3 separate regions of the Homo sapiens genome follow, and all the other regions are linked to region 1. Evidence: fine-mapped expression QTL. A gene starts in region 1. Each other region holds a variant in brackets. All regions are shown on one strand. Distances are between the middles of the regions.

Region 1 (4,238 bases):
AATAATTAACTGTAACATCACCAGTAATGGAACAAACTGACATCATATTTTGATGCACTAAGATGAATACAACATCATCTATAGTATAGCCAACAAAATTGTTTAACTTGAATCTAATCATAGGGAAACAGACAAATCCAAAACAGGGAACATTCTGCAAAATGGTGGAACTGGATTCTTCAAAAAAGTCAATGTTATAAACAACAAAACAAAACAAAACAAAAAAAGGCTGGGTGCCGAGGCTCAGGCCTGTAATCCTAGCACTTTGGGAGGTTGAGGTGGGTGGATGACCCGAGGTCAGGAGTTCGAGACCAGCCTGGCCAATAGGGTGAAACCCTGTCTCTACTAAAAAAAAAAAAAAAAAAAAAAAAACAAAAACAAAAATTAACTAGATGTGGTGGTGTATGCCTGTAATCCCAGCTACTCGGGAGACTGAGGCAGGAGAATGGCTTGGACCCGGGAGGCTGAGGTTGCAGTGAGCTGAGATTGCGCCACTGCACTCCAGCCTGGGTGATAGAGTGAGACTCCATTTCAAAATAAATAAATAAATAGAAAGAAAACCAAAACACAAAACCAAGAATGATTCTAGACTAAAGGTGTTTAAAAAGACATGACAATTAAATGCAACGGATGATCCTTAATGGTAGACTAATTGGGAAAAAAAGAAAATCAGCGACAAGGGATATTACTGGGATATTTTGCAAAATTGAATATATATGGCCTGTATGTTACAGATGATTACATTGTATTAGTATGAAAGTTTCTTGGAGTGATCATGGAATTCTGATTATGTGGGAGATTATCTTTATTCTTAGTAGATATGTACTGAAATATTTAGGGATAAAGGGTAACAGTGTCTACAAAAACTCAAGTGATTCAGCAAAATAAACCATACACACAGACACATAGATAGCAAATGTGGCAGAATGTTAAAAATTGGTGAATATGGGTTAATTTGGCTGTTAATTGTATTTTCCTTGTAACTTTTCTATAGGGTTTGATATTTTTTTGAATATAAAAAGTTAAGGACTCTTCAAAATCCAAGCAGAGTTTCCCGTTCTGATTTATCATCCTTAGTGTAAGCCACCTTGTCAAAGATACAGTTGTGTGACCAATGAGGGAGTTAATAGTCAGAATGCGTATCTTTCAAAAACTATTGTAATTATTTACATAAATAAGAGAACATTGCAGTTATCTTTTTGTGTCACTATCAACTTGATTCACATCTTTTGTAGGCAGCCTGATAAGGTGGTTTGTCGACGGCCAGGCCTGAATTTCGATCCTGGCTGGTTAAACTTTTTAACCTCGTTGGGACTCAGTTTCCTCATTGTAGGATGCAGAAAATAACTACTTGGTGTGATTGTTGTTTTGAATTGTTATACACCTGGTGTTTACGGAAGCGAGTTTCAATTCATGTGCAAAACCTTTGTCCTACCTTGAATGCTATCTGTATCTTTTCCTTCATTAAACTCATGCAATCCTGGAGGGCACTTAGAGGTGGGAGAGAAAATGACTTCTCCAAGGTCACACCGCTAATCGCGGACCCAGGTTTCCCAGCTTTTGGTCGTGTGCCCTTTCCACGCCTGCCGGAGAGGAGGAAGCGGCGCTCATGGGGTTGCAAGGATGTAGAGGAGCAAAGGGAGAGAAGAGGCCGCGGGAAGAGAGGTGGTGCGAGACCCGCGGAGGCGCCGGCCAAGGACGGGCGCATGGAGCAGCGGGCGGCGCGACCGGCCGGGGTGCGGAGGGGAGAGGCCGCGGCGGGGAGGGAGGGTCCCGCGGGTCCGGTGCCCGGGAGAGGCGGGCGGCCTGGGCCAGCCGCAGGATCGCAGGAGGCGGAGGCCCGGGCCGCGGGCTGGGGTGGGGGAGGCCGAGGGCCAGCGCGGCCATGGGCGGCGGCCACTTCTGCACAGGTGGGTGGGGCGGGGGCGCGGGGCGCTGGGCGCGCGGCGCTGGGGTCCCGACCCCCGGGGCCGGCGGGTGGGGGCGGGGCGGGGGCGGGGCCGGACGGGGGCGGGTCTTGCTGGGTCCCTGCTGGAGCGGCGGCGGCGGCGGCGGCGCAGGCGCGGTTCTCGTCTCCTCCCGGCCGGCGGAGCGAGTGGAGGCTGCAGCCCAGCTCGTCTCGGCGCCCGCGTCGCCGTCGCGAAGCCCCCCGCCCCGCTTCCGCCGCGTCGGAATGAGCTCCCGGAAAGGTGAGTGGCCCGCGGCGCGCCCTCTCCCCGCCACGCGGCCAGCCCGGGCGGGCGGCCCGACCGTTAATGTGTGTCTTCTCTTCCCCAGTGCTGGCCATTCAGGCCCGAAAGCGGAGGCCGAAAAGAGAGAAACATCCGAAAAAGTGAGTCCACGCTGCGCCTGTCCCCGTTCCCCACCCCCGCCCCGTCGGGGGCGCCCGCGGCCGCGCAGGGGAAAGTTGTCCGGGTCCCCGGGCCGGCGGGCGGGCTGGTCCCCCGGGACGCTGGCGCTCGGCTCCTGCCCCCGGCGGGCGGCCCGGGGGGAGGGGCGGCGGCGGGGGAGGGGCGCGCGGGCCGCGGCCGGTTCCCTAGCATCACGGAGCCTCGACCCCGCGACCTCCCGCCCCGGGTCGCCACCGGCCGGCGGGCGGGAGGCCGGCGGAAAGGCGCCGGGCAGGGCGTGCGCACCCGTCCCTTGCCCGCGAGCTGGCCCGGGGGTCGCGGCCCTTTCCGGAAGGGGCCCCGGCGTCTGCCGCTGGGCTCCGGCCCGCCCGCTGCGGGAGTGCAGCGGCTGCGTTGCTCCCACCTGAGCCGCGGGCCGAGGAGGCGGAGGGGCCGAGTGTGCGGGAGGGCGTGTGTCTCGCCTCCCCTTCCTCCCCGGCCCCCGCCTGTCGGCCTTTCTGCTGAGAACCTAAGCTGGTTGTCAAGTGGTTTGCCTCGGGCGTGTTCCTGGCGCGAGTTCAGCCCCGAGACCTGTGCGTTTCGGCTCTCGGGTTTGGATTCGAAACTTTCCGCTCGGGTTGAGCGTGACTTGGGTGCGCTGCGGGCGCCGGGGTCGCGGGCTGCGCAGGGCGGTGGGCGTGTGCGCGGGAGCCGGTCGGAGTGGAAAACGCGCCCGTGGCGGCCACCTCCAGCCTGGCCGCTCACCCGAGCAGGGGGGCCGCTGCCCAAGAACCCTTTCCTGGAGAGCTGCTCCGAGACCGCACAGCGCCGCCGCGTCTTCTCCTTTTCCACTCCTCTCTCCTAATTTTTTTGATTTACCAGCGTTCGACATCGTTATCTCTTCCTCTAGATTAATTGCTTCGCTCTTTTGAGCAAGAATACTCTGTGTGGCATCTTTGGTACTGTGGGGAACGAGAATCCAGCATTATCTTTAATAAAATCCAGAAACATTTTTGGTTGTTTCCTTTGAGGGGTACGTCGCAGCACGCTCACTTTTTTCCCCTTCTCGTTGGCCTTGGTCCTTCAGTTTCACAAAATGTGGATAGTGACTTAAAAATACCTTAAAAAAAAAAAAAAAAGAAAAAACCATTAGAGTAAGGGGAAAGCACTTCCTAAAGAGTTGAAGAACTAATTGGTCGGTAAAAATTGGATATTGAATTCATAAGATGTTAAAATGGACTGGATTTTTGGTAGTTTTGGTTGCTTTTAAAAAAATTAGTGCTAGCTTTCAAGTGAATTACAACCTTAAATTTGAGATTTCCTTTGGTGAACCATGGAAGTTTACCCAGTGGTAAGGAGAACTGTAATGTTTAGGATTCTGAATAAGTACTGTGTTTTAATCACAGCTCTTAATTCAAAGCATTGATTTAATTCCACGTAGTCTGTTATACTCAGAAACATAAAAACAAGTGGAAAAAGTATGACCCCAGTGTCGGAGATGGCTATGTGTGCATGTATATACAAATAGACACGTATATGTGCATGTTACCTTTACGTACATGTGGAAAAACAGTTCTAATTAAGTCAATATGTGTCTTGTATTTGCATATATTAGAGTATGATTTTCCTAATGGTCGAGGGCCTTTTTGGTGGGCCGCAGTTTGGATTTATGTGGTATGTTGATGAAGACTTAGTGAATAGCCACAGTACTCAGCTTTTCCTCTCACAGATTAATCTGCCAGTTTCTCCCACTGTGTATTGTGTATATGTGATAGAATTTGAGGGGGAAAATAACACACCAGCTAATGATGAAACGAACTGGCTCTAGTCTGTAAGGTAACGGGACCAGCCCAATTATATAACTGATTGAGGCATTGCCATTTTTCACTTAACTCTTTGAATCAAGTC
Region 2 (4,238 bases), 27 kb after region 1:
ACACGGTATGCTATGGAAAGGCTTTTCAGTGCAGCAGAAGAGAACTCAATAGAGAGACCATCATGAATGTCTGGGTTGTACCACTGAAGATACCATTGTTGTTACAGAAAAAGCAATGAAAACCATCAGGCTTGAAACAAATTCCTGCTGGAGAAGACTGTCCAGATGTGCATGACTTCAAAGGATTTTTATTAAAAATTATTTTATTATTTTTTAATTATACTTTAAGTTCTAGGGTACATGTGCACAGCATGCAGGTTTGTTACATATGTATACATGTGCCATGTTGGTTTGCTGCACCCATCAACTTGTCATTTACATTAGGTATTTCTCCTAATGCTATCCCTCTCCCAGCCCCCCACCCCACGACAGGCCCCAGTGTGTGATGTTCCCCGCCCTGTGTCCATGTGTTCTCATTGTCCGGCTCCCACCTACGAGTGAGAACATGCGGTGTTTGGTTTTCTGTCCTTGTGATAGTTTGCTGAGAATGATGGTTTCCAGATTCATTCATGTCCCTGCAAAGCACATGAACTCATCCTTTTTTATGGCTGCATAGTATTCCATGGTGTATATGTGCCACATTTTCTTAATCCACTCTATCATTGATGGACATTTGGGTTGGTTCCAAGTCTTTGCTATTGTGAATAGTGCCGCAATAATAAACATACATGTGCATGTGTAGTAAGCCTAGTAGCATGATTTATAATCCTTTGGGTATATACCCAGTAATGAGATGGCTGGGTCAAATGGTATTTCTAGTTCTAGATCCTTGAGGATTCACCACACTGCCTTCCACAAGGGTTGAACTAATTTACACTCCCACCAACCGTGTAAAAGTGTTCCTATTTCTCCACATCCTCTCCAGCACGTGTTGTTTCCTGACTTTTTAATGATTGCCATTCTAATTGGTGTGAGATGGTATCTCATTGTGGTTTTGATTTGCATTTCTCTGATGGCCAGTGATGATGAGCATTTTTTCATGTGTCTGTTGGTTGCATAAATGTCTTCTTTTGAGAAGTGTCTGTTCATATCCTTTGCCCTCTTTTTGATGGGGTTGTTTGATTTTTTCTTGTAAATTTGTTTAAGTTCTTTGTAGATTCTGGATATTAGCCCTTTGTCAGATGGGTAGATTGCAGAAATTTTCTCCCATTCTGTAGGTTGTTTACTCTGATGGTAGTTTCTTTTATTTTTTATTTATTTTTATTTATTTTTTATTATACTTTAAGTTCTAGGGTACATGTGCACAACGTGCAGCTTTATTACATATGTATACATGTGCCATGTTGGTGTGCTGCACCCGTTAACTCATCATTTACATTAAGTATATCTCCTAATGCTATCCCTCCCCTCTCCCCCCACCCCACGACAGGCCCCGGTGTGTGATGTTCCCCATCCTGTGTCCAAGTGTTCTCATTGTTCAGTTCCTATGAGTGAGAACATGCAGTGTTTGGTTTTCTGTCCATGCGATAGTTTGCTTAGAATGATGGTTTCCAGCTTCATCCATGTCCCTACAAAGGAACTCATTCTTTTTTATGGCTGCATAGTATTCCGTGGTGTATATGTGCCACATTTTCTTAATCCAGTCTATCACTGATGGACATTTGGGTTGGTTCCAAGTCTTTGCTATTGTGAATAGTGCCACAGTAAACATACATGTACATGTGTCTTTATAGCAGCATGATTTATAATCCTTTGGGTATATACCCGTTAATGGGATGGCTGGGTGAAATGGTATTTCTATTTCTAGATCCTTGAGAAATCACCACACTGTCTTCCACATGGTTGAACTAGTTTACAGTCCCACCAACAGTTTAAAAGTGTTCCTATTTCTCCACATCCTCTCCAGCACCTGTTGTTTCCTGACTTTTTTTTTTTTTTTTTTTGAGACAGAGTCTTGCTCTGTCGCCCAGGCTGGAGTGCAGTGGCGTGATCTCAGCTCACTACAAGCTCTGCCTCCTGGGTTCAGGCCATTCACCAAGTTAGCCAGGATGGTCTCCATCTCCCAACCTTGTGATCCACCCGCCTTGGCCTCTCAAAGTGCTGGGACTACAGGCGTGAGCCACCGCGCCCGGCCATTTCCTGACTTTTTAATGATCGCCATTCTAACTGGTGTGAGATGGTATCTCATTGTGGTTTTGATTTGCATTTCTCTGATGGCCAGTGATGATGAACATTTTTTCATGTGTCTGTTGGCTGCATAAATGTCTTCTTTTGAGAAGTGTCTGTTCATATCCTTCGCCCACTTTTTGATGGGGTTGTTTGATTTTTTTTCTGGTAAATTTGTTTAAGTTCTTTGTAGATTCTGGATATTAGCCCTTTGTCAGATAGGTAGATTGTAAAAATTTTCTCCCATTCTGTAGTGCGTGTTCACTCTGATGGTAGTTTCTTTTGCTGTGCAGAAGCTCTTTAGTTTAATTAGATCCTGTTTTTCAATTTGGCTTTTGTTGCCAGGCGCTTTCGGTGTTTTAGTCATGAAGTCCTTGCCCATGCCTATGTCCTGAATGGTATTGCCTAGGTTTTCTTCCTAGGGTTTTTATGGTTTTAGGTCTAACATTTAAGTCTTAAATCCATCTTGAATTAATTTTTGTATAAGGTGTAAGGAAGAGATCCAGTTTCAGTTTTCTACATATAGCTAGCCAGTTTTCCCAGCACCATTTATTAAAT[G/A]GGGAATGCTTTCCCCATTGCTTGTTTTTGTCAGGTTTGTCAAAGATCAGATGGTTGTAGATGTGCGGTGGTATTTCTGAGGCCTCTGTTCTGTTCCATTGATCTATATATCTGTTTTGGTACCAGTACCATGCTGTTTTTGTTACTGTAGCCTTGTAGTATAGTCTGAAGTCAGGTAGCATGATGCCTCCAGTTTTATTCTTTTTGCTTAGGATTGTCTTGGCAGTGCGTGCTCTTTTTTGGTTCCGTATGAACTTTAAAGTAGTTTTTTCCAATTCTGTGAAGAAAGTAATTGGTAGCTTGATGGGGATGGCATTGAATCTATAAATTACCTTGGGCTGTATGGCCATTTTCACGATATTGATTCTTCCTATCCATGAGCATGGAATGTTCTTCCATTTGTTTGTGTCCTCTTTTATTTCATTGAGCAGTGGTTTGTAGTTCTCCTTGAAGAGGTCCTTCACATCCCTTGTAAGTTGGATTCCTAGGTATTGTATTCTCTTTGTAGCAATTGTGAATGGGAGTTCACTCATGATTTGGCTCTCTGTGTGTTATTGGTATATAGGTGTATAAGAATGCTTGTGATTTTTGTACATTGACTGAGACTTTGCTGAAGTTGCTTATCAGCTTAAGGAGATTTTGGGCTGAGATGATGGGGTTTTCTAAATAGACAATCATGTCATCTGCAAACAGGGACAATTTGACTTCCTCTTTTCCTAATTGAATACCCTTTATTTCTTTCTCTTGCCTGATTGCCCTGGCCAGAACTTCCAGCAACGTGTTGAATATTCGAGTGGTGAGAGAGGACATCCTTGTCTTGTGCCAGTTTTCAAAGGGAATGCTTCCAGTTTTTGCCCATTCAGTATGATATTGGCTGTGGGTTTGTCATAAATAGCTCTTACTATTTTGAGATACGTTCTGTCAATACCGAATTTATTGAGAGTTTTTAGCATGAAGGCCTGTCGGGTTACCCACAAAGGGAAGCCCATCAGACTAACGGCGGATCTCTCGGCAGAAACCCTACAAGTCAGAAGACAGTGGGGGCCAGTATTCAGCATTCTTAAAAGAATTTTTAACCCAGAATTTCATATCCAGCCAAACTAAGCTTCATAAGTGAAGGAGAAATAAAATCCTTTACTGACAAGCAAATGTTGAGAGATTTTGTCACCACCAGGCCTGCCTTACAAGAGCTCCTGAAGGAAGCACTAAATATGGAAAGGAAAAGCTGGTACTAGCCACTGCAAAAAAAATTGTAAAGACCATCGATGCTATGAGGAAACTGCATCAACTAATGGGCAAAATAACCAGCTAACATCATAATGACAGGATCAGATTCACACAGTATTAACCTTAAATGTAAATGGGCTAAATGTCCCAATTAAAAGACACAGACTGGCAAATTGGATAGAGAGTCAAGACCTATCAGTGTGCTGTATTCAGGAGACCCATCTTACCTTCAGAGACACACATAGTCTCAAAATAAAGGGATGGAGGAAGATGTACCAAACAAATGGAAAGCAGAGAAAAGCAGGGGTCGAGATCCTAGTCTCTGATAAAACAGACTTTAAACCAGC
Region 3 (4,238 bases), 59 kb before region 1:
AAACATTTTGGTATGAGTTTTTGTACAGTCATATGTCTCCATTTCTCTTGAGTATAAAGCTAGGAGTGGAATTTCTGTGTCATATAACTGTGTTTAATCTTTGAAGAACTCTCAGACTGTTTTCCTAAGTAGCTGCACCATGTTACATTCCCACTAGGAGTGTATGACAGTTCTATTTTCTCCACATCCTCGTCAACACTTGTTGTTATCTGTCTTTGTGATTGTAGCCATCCTTTTGGGTATAAAGAGGTTTCTCTGCTGGACGTGGTGGCTCACGCCTGTAATCCCAGCACTTTAGGAGGTCAAGTTGGGCAGATCACTTGAGGTCAGGAGTTTAAGACCAGCCTGGCCAACATGGTGAAACCCCATGTCTACTAAAAATACAAAAATTAGCCAGACATGGTGGCAGGCACCTGTAATCCCATCTACTTGGGAGGCTGAGACAGGAGAACTGCTGAACCTAGGAGGCAGAGGTTGCAGTGAGCCAAGATTGCGTCACTGCACTCCAGCCTGGGCGAGGGAGCAAGACTCCATCTCAAAAGCAAAAATAAAAATAAATTTAAACAAATGAAAATAAAGTGGTTTCTCACTACGGTTTTGATTTGCATTTCCCTGATGACTATGTGGAATATTTTTGTATGCTTATTGGCCATTTGTCTATTCTTTGGAGAAATGTCTATTGAGATCTTTTGCCCATTTGGGGGGTGTTATTTTTCTTTATGTTGTTGAGATCTAGAGTTCTTTGTATGTTCTAGGCACAAATCCTTTACCAGGTATACGATTGGCAAATATTTTCTCCCATTCCATGGGTTGTCTACTTTCTTTTTTTTTTTTTTTTCTTTTGAGACAAGATCTCATTGTTGCTCAGGCTGTCTGTAGTAACACGATCACGGATCACTGAGGCCTCAACCTCCCAGGCTTAAAAGTAGCTGGGACTACAGGCACACACCACTACAGGCTAATTTTTGTATTTTTGGTAGAGATGGGGTTTCACCATGTTGTCCAGGCTGGTCTTGAACTCCTGAGCTCAAGCCATCTGCCTGCCTCGGCCTCCTAGAGTGCTGGGATTACAGGCTTGAGCCACTGAGCCTGGCCTATCTTTACTTTCTTGAGGGTTGGGTTTTTGTTTTGTTTTGTTTTTTGAGACAAAGTCTTGCTCTGTCACCAGGCTGGAGTACAGTGGCGTGATTTTGGCTCACTGCAACCTCCCCCTCCCGGGTTCAAGCGATTCTCCTGCCTCAGCCTCCCGAGTAGCTGAGACCACAGGCACATGCCACCACGCCCACCTAATTTTTGTATTTTTAGTAGAGACGGGATTTCACCATGTTGGCCAGGATGGTCTCGATCTCTTGACCTCGTGATCTGCCTGCCTCGGCCTCCCAAAGTGCTGGGATTACAAGCGTGAGCCACTGCGCCCAGCTGAGGGTTGGGTTTTAAAGGCTGTAGGAGTTATTCTTTATTGAAATTTTGTTTCTAAACTAAGTTCCTATGGTGTCCATAATAACTAGATTGCTGCAGTGTCCACAGTAACCATCTGAAAATGGATTTTCATGACTGGGAGGGCTCAGGGTTAAGCGCAAGAATTCACAACCATAACTTTACAGGATGAAAATAGTCAGGCACTGCCAGGAGCGGTGGCTCACACTTGTAATCCCAGCACTTTGGGAGGCCTAGGCAGACGGATCACTTGAGATCAGGAGTTGAAGACCAGTCTGGCCAACATGGTGAAACCCTGTCTCTACTAAAAATACAAAAATTAGCCGGGCGTGGTGGTGGGCGCCTGTAATCCCAGCTACTTGCTGGGCTGAGGCACGAGAATTTCTTGAATCCGGGAGGCAGAGGTTGCAGTAAGCCAAGATCTCGCCACTGCACTCCAGCCTAGGCGACAGAGTGAGACTCCGTCTCAAAACAAACAAACAACAACAACAACAACAAAAAAAACCACTTAGGCGCACTTGGGAACGCTTTTGTTTCAGCTCAGTTCAACTCCACCTGCACCCTCTGAGAGCTGCAAATGGGGAACATAACTCTCCTTAGCCCAGCACCCACGTCTGTTCTCTACTAGCCACATTCATCCTGTTTTCTACATTTCTCTCTTCCTGTTTACAAAATTAATTTTCAACATAGAAGATCTTACTACCTGTTTTGGCCTAGACAAATGTTTCACTACCAAAAAAC[T/G]TGCTCGTCAAGCTGACACAGAGTCATTCCACTTAACGAGTTAGCCACCTTCCATTAGCTGGAAAGATGATAGAGTCTTAGTTGATCCTTTTTTCTAATAATAATATCTGTCTAATAAAGTGGAGCTAAAGTCTGTTTCTTTCCTGTGCCATCCTGGTTTCTTAGGACCCCTGCACATTAATTAGGAGGAAGTCATGATGTGGATAACTCCAAAAGGTGAAAATCCAAAAGTAAATAAAGCACTGGAGGCTGCTGTGATAAAGAGGAAAGGACGTCAAACCAGGAGTCAAAATGCACAGGCTGAAGTCCTGGCCCTGCCACTGACTGTTGCTCAGAGACCTTCAGAGATCCACATCCCTCCTCCGGACCTCAGCTTTCTCCAGAGAATCCCTCAATGCTAACTGTTGCAGAGTACTCCATGGAGTGCACCCATCACACGTGGACTACACGGAGCTCCAGGGATGGACATCAGATTTGCCTCTAACTCCTCATCACCCTAAACAACATTGTCATCAACTCCATTGCACATGTCTCCTTGTGGACCCATCACAGCACCATCAGTTCCCACTGTTGCAGGCTAAGGAAGAAGCCTGTACACAGTCCCATCTGGGTGGGATTGGCTGTCCACAGAGGTAGGAAGACGAAGTGATGCCAAGTAGGATCATCTTCCCTCCAGAACTTGGGCCCAGTCTTCCAGGAGTTGTCATCTGTGCTTGGAGCAATAACTCATTTTCTCTCCTCTCTTACCATGTGAATTTTTCACTACTTTAAAAAATTGCTGGCTGGGCATGGTGGCTCACGCCTGTAATCCCAGCACTTTGGGAGGCCGAGGCGGGTGGATCACGAGGTCAGGAGATCAAGACCATCCTGGCTAACATGGTGAAACCTCGTCTCTACTAAAAATACAAAAAATTAGCCAGGCGTGGTGGCAGGTGCCTGTGGTCCCAGCTACTTGGGAGGCTGAGGCAGGAGAATGGCGGGAACCTGGGAGGCAGAGCTTGCAGTGAGCTGACATAGCGCCACTGCACTCCAGACTGGGCAACAGAGCGAGACTCAGTCTCAAAAAAAAAAAAAAAAAAAATTGCTGGCCAGGCACGGTGGCTCACGCCTGTAATCCCACCACTTTGGGAGGCCAAAGCAGGTGGATCACCTGAGGTCAGGAATTTGAGACCAGCCTGGCCAACATGGTGAAACCCCGTCTCTACCAAAAATACAAAAATTAGCCAGGCATGGTGGCGGGTGCCTGTAGTCCCAGCTACTTAAGAGGCTGAGGCAGGAGAATTGCTTGAACCTGGGAGGCGGAGGTTGCAATGAGCCGAGATTGTGCCACTACACTCCAGCCTGGGCAACAGAGCGAGACTCCATCTCAGAAAAAAAAAAAAAAAATTGCAATATACATTCATAACCAAGTCCACTTTCAAATAACACCATACTGCTTCATGAGTAGTACAGGTCCTTCATGGATAGTACAGATACTTTATAACAGTATTTGCTGGCCAGGCACGGTGGCCCATGCTTATAATCCCAGCACTTTGGGACGTCAAGGTGAGCAGATCATGTGAGGTCAGGAGTTCAAGACCAGCCTGGCTGACATAGTGAAACCTCGTCTCTACTAAAATACAAAAATTAGCCAGGCACGGTGCCAGGCACCTGTAATCCCTGCTACTCGGGAGGCATCCCAAGTTGGGATTGCACCGTTGTACTCCAGCCTGGATGACAGAGTGAGACTCTGTCTAAAAAACAAAAAACAAAAACAAACAAACAAAAAAACAGTATTTGCAACTCCTTTCTACTGCTTTCTAAAGCAAAGAAACGGCTTTCATTGATTTCACATTTCCATGCTATAATCATGCAATTCCTTCTTGCTATTATTATTTTGAATGGTCATATATTAGATCAGTTAATAAGAAAAGTAAAAGGTTATTTTTATTCCTTCTCTGATTCTCTTCCTTTCTTGATATGCATGAGAGTTTCTGACCTATATCATTTTCCTTTTCACTGAGGAACTTCTTTTAACAGTTTTTGCAAGGCAGGTCTGCTGGCAATAAATTCCCTCAGTT

Evidence for each region. PIP is the estimated chance that this variant, and not a neighbour inherited with it, causes the effect. A credible set is the group of variants that fine-mapping cannot tell apart.
Region 2: its variant is the best candidate, but not a certain one, in a credible set for the expression of SRPK2 in whole blood (TOPMed, PIP 0.51).
Region 3: its variant is the best candidate, but not a certain one, in a credible set for the expression of SRPK2 in whole blood (TOPMed, PIP 0.75).

Annotation. Positions count from the first base shown.
Region 1 is chr7:105,386,742-105,390,979 of GRCh38, reverse strand. SRPK2 (SRSF protein kinase 2) reads left to right here and starts at 2,059. Exons shown (of 16, transcript NM_182692.3): 1 at 2,059-2,189; 2 at 2,278-2,332. The coding sequence starts at 2,174. RefSeq lists silencers at 1,689-1,858, 1,959-2,008, 2,019-2,088, 2,119-2,248, 2,589-2,708 and 1 more.
Region 2 is chr7:105,360,162-105,364,399 of GRCh38, reverse strand. The region is part of intron 2 of SRPK2 (SRSF protein kinase 2); the gene reads left to right. Among named protein-coding and RNA genes, the nearest start is that of SRPK2, 27 kb to the left of the region's middle. The variant G/A (reference allele first, on the strand shown) is at 2,665.
Region 3 is chr7:105,446,187-105,450,424 of GRCh38, reverse strand. No RefSeq gene overlaps it. Among named protein-coding and RNA genes, the nearest start is that of SRPK2, 59 kb to the right of the region's middle. RefSeq lists an enhancer at 2,137-2,256. The variant T/G (reference allele first, on the strand shown) is at 2,179.